Linked DNA regions of Homo sapiens. The protein of the gene in region 3 purifies or fractionates together with the protein of the main gene of each other region. This does not show direct contact. Each region holds a gene or a part of one and is shown on either strand. Other genes may lie near its edges. The genes, in order: KIAA0232, TRIM26 and CHRM5.

Region 1 (3,659 bases), on a different chromosome or scaffold from region 3:
TGGTTTGGAGCTTAGAATTCAGAGATACCAGCATCACAATGCAGGCCCCTTGCAGTCTGGCCCCCAGTCATCTCTGTACTTTATCTTGTCCTCTTTGTCCCCTTTCCACACTGTCCAGCTAAACAAGACTGCTCTTGGTTCTCTGAACATGCCAAGCTATTTCAGACCTTCTTTGCTTATATTCTTTTCTCTTATTGGAATGTCCTGTCTCACTCCCACTCCCTCCAGTTCTTAAAAGTTCATATCAAATATTCTGTTCTCTCTGGAGTCCTTTGGAAGTCCTATTACAATGAATTATTCCTTTCCTCAATCATAGTTCTCTATTTTTCCTTCATTATTGTCTATATCATGTTGTATTATAAATTGGTCATAGTAAACTCTGGCTGTGGTGTCTATCCTATCATTTTGCCCCCAACACCTTGCTCAGGCGTTTAAACATAAGTGCTTAATGTTAAATGTAAGTGTTTAAATGTTTGCTAAATAAAGTCAAAGTCTGTAATCAACCTTAAAGAGTATGTTAATATTATAAAGTATATTTATTTTTATTTTTTCTGACCCTGGCTTAAGTCTGCAAATAAAGTTTGTTTGTTTTTGAGACAGCATCTTGCTTTGTCACCCAGGCTTGGAGTGCGGTGGTGTGATCGTGGCTCACTGTAGCCTCAACCTCCCAGGCTCAAGTGATCCTCCCACCTCAGCCTCCTGAGTAGCTGGGACCACGGGCATGCACCACCATGCTCAGCTAATTAAAACAATTTGTTTTTTTGTAGAAACGGGTCTCCCTGTGTTGCCCAGGCTGATCTCGAACTCCTGGGCTCAAGCAATCCTCCCACCTCAACCTCCCAAAGTGCTGGGATTACAAGCATGAGCCACCGCACAAGACCCAGATGAAGTATTTTTAATAAACATCGGTGCCCACAACAACATTAGAAATGTAGTTTTACTATGTTGAATATAGTTACTATTTAGAATATTTCTTTACAGTTATTTTTGGTCTTTCACATAATCACATAAGTGGTATTTTATACAAAGTAAAAACTGTCATCTTTCCCATTTGTATCTAAACTTGTAGGGTCTAATGAAATAGATGAAGTGCCTGCATTGCTGACTGTGAATCACCGACCCATTTTTTGGGCAGAGGGAACCAGAGCACAAGGTTAAAAATATTCCTTGTATTGGCCGGGCGCGGTGGCTCACGCCTGTAATTCCAGCACCTTGGGAGGCCGAGGCGGGCGGATCATGAGGTCAAGAGAGTGAGACCATCCTGGCCAACATGGTGAAACCCCATCTCTACTAAAAATACAAAAATTATCCGGGCATGGTGGAGCACGCCTATAGTCCCAGCTACTTGGGAGGCTGAGGCAGTAGAATCTCTTGAACCCGGGAGGTGGAGGTTGCAGTGAACCAAGATCACACCACTGGACTCCAGCCTGGCGACAGAGCAAGGCTCTCTCAAAAAAAAAAAAAAAAAAAAAAAATCCTTATATTTGAAGTATAATTTAATTCCCAAGAGATTACATGCTTTTTCTTTAAAAGTTTTCTTTTTTAGAAATTTATTATATGCATCAAAAGCAATTGCGTTTGAGGGGGCTTCTTAAAAGAATATTAGAACTGGATTTGAAAGACTCAGGTTTGCTTCTTGGCCGTGAACAAGTTTGTTAAATCCCTTTGGAAGTCAGTCAGTCTTTATTTGGGAACTGAGAACGGTTATTCCTGTTGCTTTGTAGTACATTTAAAGAGGCTATGCTTTGTGTACTGCACATCCTTACACAGATACAAGGTAATCAGATGTTTTGCTTTATAGCATTTTTGTCCTACTTGTTACCCAGCCTGGAAACCTTTAGAGACTTCCTTTCTTGACCAGATTTTTACCAGGTTTGCCTCCATGAGTCTTTTCCATCAGTCTTTTTCTTTACTCTTTCATGTTTCCTCTGCCCCTACCCTCCCTGAAGCTCTTACTCCTTATGAAGATAGTTACTGTAGTCCTCCAACTGGCCTCTCTTTTTTCTGGTCTCTCCTCCTCTGTTCTGTTGCCAGAATTATTTAATAGGCAAATCAAATCATATCATGACCCATTTCCCAAGTATACACCAGAGGTTCTCAACATTTCCCTCTATTCCATCACACCTGAGGGATACGACAGTTTTGTTGGTAAGGTTATGGGCTTTCTCCTCCCAAGATTTTTACCTTGGAAGTGCTACCACACTCCTCCCCTGGTTGAGAATTAATGTTAAAGAGTTAGGAAATCACTGTAAGATCTTTGCTATCTAGCCTCATTCTTACTTTTAGCTTAATCTTTTATTGGATCTCTTCTTTTTCGTTTTTGTGTTTTTGAGACAGGGTCTTACTCTGTCACTCATGCTGGAGTGCAGCGGTGCCATCTTGGCTCACTGCAACTTCCACCTCCCTTCCTCCTGCTGCCTTGGCCTCCTGAGTAGCTGGGACTACAGGCACATAACGCCTGGCTAATTTTTTGTAGAGATGGGGTTTTGCTCTGTTGCCTAGACTGGCTTCAAACTCCTGGGCTCAAGTAATCTGCCCGCCTTGGCCTCCGAAAGTGCCGAGATTATAAGCACGAGCCACCACGCCCAGCCTGCATCTCTTCTTGTCACCTTATATTTCAACACAAGACCTCTGGCCACTTCCGTTATTGGCAGACTACTCTGAAATATCCTTTCCACCTTTCTCTCTCTTTCTGAGTCTTGGAGTCTTGGCTTAAATGCTGCTACTTCTATTTCTGTAACCTGATTTTCAGAATTAACTCATTATTTTTCTCCCACACAGTGCTAGCCTGATACCTCTACTTATCTATTTTTTCCTTATGACTTTTTAGTTTATATACATGAAGGTCTTTCCTGGATTATAAACTCCTTGAGAGATGTAGAGGAAAATCTTAATCATTTCTGATTTCCTCTAGTGTGCAATATAGTCTTTTACATAGTACTCATTTGTTAAATGTTTGACTGAATTAACTCAAAATTTACAGTCTCTGATTTCAGGAGGAGGAGGATAGAGTTGGAATAACTTTGTATGAGAACTTAGTGAATCCACGTGACACACTCAGAACAGGGCCCAGCATATAGTAAGTGCTCAGTAAGTGGCAGCTTTTAGCTATTAATTTGAATAGGTGGAGACGACACTAGTGGTTGGATACACTGGTTAATTGTATATGCTAGTTTATTATGACAGTGTTCACATATTTATTTCTGGTGTGTGTGTAAAGAAAAAAATCTCATTTTCTTTCTTTTTTTTTTATTTTTATTTTGAGACAGAATCTCGCTCTGTCGCCCAGGCTCGAGTGCAGTGGCGCGATCTCGGCTCACTGCCAACTCCACCTCCTGGGTTCACGCCATTCTCCTGCCTCAGCTTCCCGAGTAGCTGGGACTACAGGCGCCCGACCACAACGCCCGGCTAATTTTTTGTATTTTTAGTAGAGACTGGGTTTCACCGTGTTAGCCAGGATGGTTTTTATCTCCTGACCTCGTGGTCTGCCCGCTTTGGCCTCCCAAAGTGCTGGGATTACAGGACTGAGCCACCATGCCCGGCCTTTTCTTTTTTTTTTTTTCCCGAGACTGAGTTTTACTCTGTCACCCAGGTTGGAGTATAGTGGCGTGATCTTGGCTTACTGCAACCTCTGTCTCGTGGGTTCAAGTGATTCTCCT
Region 2 (2,885 bases), on a different chromosome or scaffold from region 3:
GGAATAAAATTTATTTTGGCAGATAGCGTTAAACAAAATTAAAGTTGCATACATTAGTAATATAACTCAACATCCTTAATTTGGTATAAGTGTGACACATTTTCTGGCTTTGTATTCTGCTAAATCACCATAACTAAACTGCTTTATAAACATGATATACTGAAATTTAACTTGACTGTTTTCGCTTACGCTCTGATTCCAAACAAAACTTTTCATAAGCTTCCTCTATCTCTGGATCTCTGGGTCCAACTCATCATTAATATCATCCAAGTGTGGATCACCAGTCCCTGAAAAATCTGTTCCATTTTCTTCATAATCCAGAAAAAAAGTCCTCTTTTTCAAGTAACTCTTGATATGCTTCTTGGTAATCCGGATCAGCTGCAGTGAAAGGAACACTATGAAACACAATAACTATGTGAATGACCACTATAAAATGTTGGTTCATTCACATAGTAATTGGGATCTTTTTTGGCTGTTGTATTTCTGTATGATGAAGTTGCATGGACTCTACCCCAATTACTGCACTGGGGTTCTACAAGCTTCAAGAGCATCTGTTTCATGTCTCTGCCACAGCTTGCATCTATAACAACATTTTCAATTTCCTGAATAATTTCTTCCATATCAGTCCTTCCTTTTCCTTCCAAGAATCTTCCAAAACTGACCCTGTCAACTTCAGCAATTTTATTGCACAAATTAAGCTGTCATCCACGGGATTAGAAAAGAGGGCATTCAGGCATTCGGCAACTCCTGAAGACCAACCTGAAGAATATCTGCCCTTGTAACCTGTCCATTTGTTCCTCTGATCTCCAGGTTATGATAAAGCTCTCCCAGAAAGGGTACAAATGCATGAAATTGTTTTGGAGTAACTTCATCCCCTTTTGCAGCTTGATCTTTAATGTCATATTCAGTCCGACATCTTTGAAGTAGAAATTGGCGGAAGGTGCTACTCTCTGTGCTAACTGTCAGATGATGTCAGGTAATTACACAGGTGAGCTCCCATGTAAGAGAAATTTGGGGCTGGGCACGGTGGCTCACGCCTATAATCCCAGCACTTTGGAAGGCCGAGGCGGGTGGATCACAAGGTCAGGAGATCGAGACCATCCTGGCTAACATGGTGAAACCCCATCTCTACTAAAAATACAAAAATTAGCCGGGCATGGTGGTGGGCACCTGTAGTCCCAGCTACTTAGGAGGCTGAGGCAGGAGAATGGCGTGAACCTGGGAGGCGGGGCTCGCAGTGAGCTGAGATCACACCACTACACTCCAGCCTGGAAGACAAAGCAAGACTCCATCTCAAAAAAAAAAAAAAAAAAAAGGCCGGGCGCGGTGGCTCACGCCTGTAATCCCAGCACTTTGGGAGGCCGAGGCGGGTGGATCACGAGGTCAGGAGATCGAGACCATCCTGGCTAACACGGTGAAACCCCGTCTCTACTAAAAATACAAAAAATTAGCCGGGCGAGGTGGCGGGCGCCTGTAGTCCTAGCTACTCGGGAGGCTGAGGCAGGAGAATGGCGTGAACCCCAGGAGGCGGAGCCTGCAGTGAGCCGAGATTGCGCCACTGCACTCCAGCCTGGGCGACAGCGAGACTCCGTCTCAAAAAAAAAAAAAAAAAAAAAAAAAGAAATTTGGGACAGATGTGGCCTCTGAGTTCCACAAGTTCTTGCAAAGCATCATCTGTTGTAACACAAGCATTCAGGGTCTCTGTAAACTGTTCAATTTCAGTTTCAAAACTACCAGCCTGCTCTGTAAGATGGTTCAAGAAACCCTGAACAGGTACTGACAGAGTGGGATAATCCTCACCATCATCCTCATAGGATTCTCTATAATTAGAATAACCTGATAGGTAAAATTTGACGGTATTCACAGACAGCTCAGACATTAATAAAGAAGCTACAACCACCTAAGGTTTAACCACTGCTAACTCAGTTCTGCTATGGGATTTTATCCTGTGAACTAGATGAAGCTCTCAGGGCCTCGTTTGCTCCCAGACAGGCCGACCTCCTCAATGGTTCTCACGAAAGCAAGTGTGAAAGTGAGCCAGGAGGAGACCACCAGTCTTCACAATCCAAGGGGCACCATTCACATCTTGGTCTATGTGGATGGCGCTCCTTGGTGGTTGGTATGCAGTGTACAACCTAACTGCAGGGCTGAGAGGGGGCACAATAGTGGGGCCTGTGGTGGATATGGCCTCTGGTCTTAGGTTGCCCCTGCTGTTTGCTCTGAATATAGGAGCCATGCAGCCAGGAAGATGAGAGAAAGCTCGGCCACAGGAAAAGGACTGGTGGTAGGACCTGTGAGGATAGGAAAAAGAAAAGCAAACACAGGGCAGAGAAGGATCAGACTAGCAAGCAGAGGCCTCTACTGCAGACTAAAGAGTAGGCTGATTAGAAAGTGCAAAGAGGGAGGGGGGCTTCTATTGTGCAGCTGGGAAATTCTTCCTGTTGCAAAAGGGGCTACCTGGGGGAAAAGTGAGCAGTCAGAATCTCTGCAGGCGGAGTTTTCTATATTTGATGTACATCTGGGAAACACCCTCTAGACACTCACCTGTCTTATATTCCAAGTCTCTCAGCAGCTTCCCTGGGGAGAAAAAAGGACAGCAATGACTCAAGTCCCGAAAATTTATGAGCCCATTTCTTGCTCGGGCAGTATCAATTTCCTGATAGGGATCCATGTCTAAGACAAGAGGCCCTCAGAAGAGTGAGGATCGACAAGGTGATGGAAAGGAGCTGGGTGCGCTCTTTCTACGAGGTAGCCCTGCTCTGACTCCCACCCTTTGTGCGCTCCCCAACCCTTACCCTGGAATTCCCTCAGGCCTCGTTGCAGAGAGAGGAGTTTATCTGAGAATTCTCCGGTCTTTTTTTTAACCACTCGAGCAATGGGTTTCC
Region 3 (2,890 bases):
TTTATTTATGCTCTGTTCTTAGGAAGACTAATTGTGTAAGAGCCCTTCACTGGCTGAAGATTTTCTCCAGGCTGTTGAATTAAGGTTCTTATATTGTTTTCAGAGATCTTGCTTTCTAATCTCTTCACAGGGCAAACCTGAGCAAAATGTGGAAAACAGATTTGCTTTTGAATTTCTTCCAGAGCCCTTTTGCAGCCTCCAATTTCCCTTGTTCAGATCCCCAGTTCACACCAAGACGCAAGCAGGTCAGCTGTGCTGCCTCCAAGCAGGGGGTTGTGGGGTGAGGTGGGGGTAGAAAGTCTTTTTTTATAGGTCCTTCAAATCAGGGCCTAAAAATGACTTCTTTATTCCTCTCCAAATTCGGTCACAAATGAGAAGGCCAGAAAAGCACACTTGAGGGTGCGATGAAGCTGAAAATGATCTGAAAGCTTCATTTTTAAAAACAAAGTGTAGGTCATAGTAATACATAAAAATAAAACAGTTGACATGCATGACAGCATGAGGATTATTAAAAACCACACTTAATTGAAATCTCTAAGTGCGTATAAACAAACGGAATCAAAGGACCTTTGTGGACAAAAGTCCACAAAGAAGCAGTAGTGTGGTACACAGCAAGGATTTTAAAGATGAAGCACTCCTGTCAGACATTATTTAACTCGTTGGTTACATCTGCAGCTGGACTTAAAAATCACCAGACTTCATGCGTCTTAGTGTAGGCCGGGTCCTTTTCAGTCTCATTTGCTAAGAGGATGGAAAATTAGCTGGTTTAGTTGTCCTGGGAATTAGATATGTACCTGAGTATGGGAGAGCTTCAGCCTACCACTGAAGAGCATCATCAGCCTCTCACAGGATGTCCCACGGAGGCTTCAGGGTAGTAGAATCTCAGGCAGGACGGGACTGGTCCCTTATAAAGACTTCACGTTGACATGAAACATCTTGTAAGCAGTGCATCTGCTGAGCCTTTGTAAAGGGCAGGTTGACACCTGCAAAGAATTCGGTGGGAACAGTAATTGGCTCAGTTCTCCAGCACAGAGGCTTTCGGGCCTCCGTGATGCCAACTGGGTGTGACTTCATGAGCAAACCTGCTCTACCAGCGCCAGATAAACAGTTGAGTCTTCGTTTAAGGCTTTGATTCCTGATAAAGATGAAAACCCCTTCATGAGAATAGGCTTTTAAGCCCATGTTGGGCATTCACCATTCGCAGTTGAGAGTGAAACAAGCTAATTTAAACAAAAGAACACAAATCGGGAAAGGATGCCATGGAGGGCACTCCTCGCACACTCCGCACTTGCTTAGGACTTGGCCTTTTTTGTTCATCTTTTGTGAAATTGATTAAGAAGTGTATTGCTGGGTGTGGTGGCTGACACCTGTAATCCCAGCACTTTGGGAGGCTGAGGCAAGAGGACTGCTTGACCCTAGGGGCTCAAGACCAGCCTGGCAACATAGGGAGACCCTGTCTCTACAAAAAAAATTTTAAATACCTGGGCATTAGCAGGGCATCGTAGTGTGTGCCTGTAGACCCAGCTACTTCAGAGGTTGAAGCAGGAGGATCGCATGAGCCCAGGAGTTAGAGGTTGCAGTGAGCTATGATCACACTACTGCATTCCAGTCTAAGTGACAGAGCAAGACCCTGCCTCAAAAAAAAAAAGAGAGAGAGAGAGGTCAATGCTTCTTTTTTTATCATTGGTTTTGGAAAGCAGCCAGTTTTGCAGACTACCTATGCCTCTTGACATAGACAAAAAATATCCCAAACTACTAGGGACAACTAGACTTCTATAGAATAGCGGCTTTAGTGGGGTCCTCAGAATGAATAGACCTAATTGTAAACTACAGGGACCTGATGGGTGGGTGGGAGGCGCATGGCCTGACTTGAGATCTTAGGCCTTCTATGCCCCCAGTCTTCCAGGCTTTGTCTATAGTAAACCATGTATGACTTTGGCTAGTTACCTACTGGATGCTGTTACTTTGCTATCATTGTAATTTGTTTCCCCTTGGCTGTGAATTTGATGACTTGTCAGGGAATCTGTTTTCCATTCAATTTTTGGTTGAACAAAGCATTTTGTCAATATTCTCAGCTTTTGCTTCGCTCCTTTGGTGAATGTCCTTTGAAGACAATACTGATGCCAGCTCTTTGTAATTGTGAAATCTGTACCCAAACCTCTGGATTAGAATCTCCAGTTGTCTACTGTAAATACTGGAATTACAGCAAAGGATATGGGGACTGGGCTGCTTTTCTGTATTGTATAAGCACTATTCTAGATATTAAAGAAATTTAACCGCACAGTGGTCCAATGCAGAGCATTTAAATAAGAAAATTGTTTCAGAGTAGCCTATTAGATCCATCTATATTGGGTTTCCCACACACCTTTGCATGGCCTGGCCTTTCAAGAAAGTTGGGATTGATACACAGTATGGATACACGTCCTTCTTGCTACCTTTTGTGATTCCTCCTTCCCTCTAAGTTACCAATGACCAAACTAAGATTAAATAATGATGACAAGAGATCTGTGAGTAAAACGCTTTCCCTTCCCTATGGGACAAGGGAGGTGGGGCAGACCTGAAACCACAGTCCTTTACCGAGTGGAGACTGCACAAAAAGGGGCAGCAGCATTTCCTTGTCAACTATTTAAAGAGTCGGTGCCCCACTCCATTCCCATTGTAAGTGATACTAATTTCCATCTTCCCCACATCATTTTACTGGTAAAGTTCAAGATTATGTAAACTCTTGCCCAATAAAGACCCCAGATCGAGAGTGAGCGGAAGAAGGGAAAAAAGTTTAATTGTCAAAGAAGAAGCTGGAAGCAATTAAAAACAAAACAAAACTTTTTTGAAATCATTTAAAATTTACAGAAAAGTTGCAAGAGTAATAAGAAGAACTCCTAATGTCCTT

Evidence for each region.
Region 1: the proteins of CHRM5 (region 3) and KIAA0232 purify together in Homo sapiens (affinity purification with mass spectrometry; one large-scale study listed by BioGRID and IntAct). This does not show direct contact.
Region 2: the proteins of CHRM5 (region 3) and TRIM26 purify together in Homo sapiens (affinity purification with mass spectrometry; one large-scale study listed by BioGRID and IntAct). This does not show direct contact.

What each region holds. Positions count from the first base shown.
Region 1 is NC_000004.12:6,785,727-6,789,385, forward strand, and holds part of KIAA0232 (uncharacterized protein KIAA0232), read left to right. Parts: intron 1-3,659.
Region 2 is NC_000006.12:30,186,623-30,189,507, forward strand, and holds part of TRIM26 (tripartite motif-containing protein 26), read right to left. Parts: coding exon 2,796-2,885; intron 2,578-2,795; coding exon 2,545-2,577; intron 1-2,544.
Region 3 is NC_000015.10:34,065,178-34,068,067, forward strand, and holds the end of CHRM5 (muscarinic acetylcholine receptor M5), read left to right. Parts: 3' UTR 1-794; coding exon of another isoform or gene 795-836; 3' UTR 837-2,281; downstream 2,282-2,890. UniProt on the Homo sapiens protein: The muscarinic acetylcholine receptor mediates various cellular responses, including inhibition of adenylate cyclase, breakdown of phosphoinositides and modulation of potassium channels through the action of G proteins.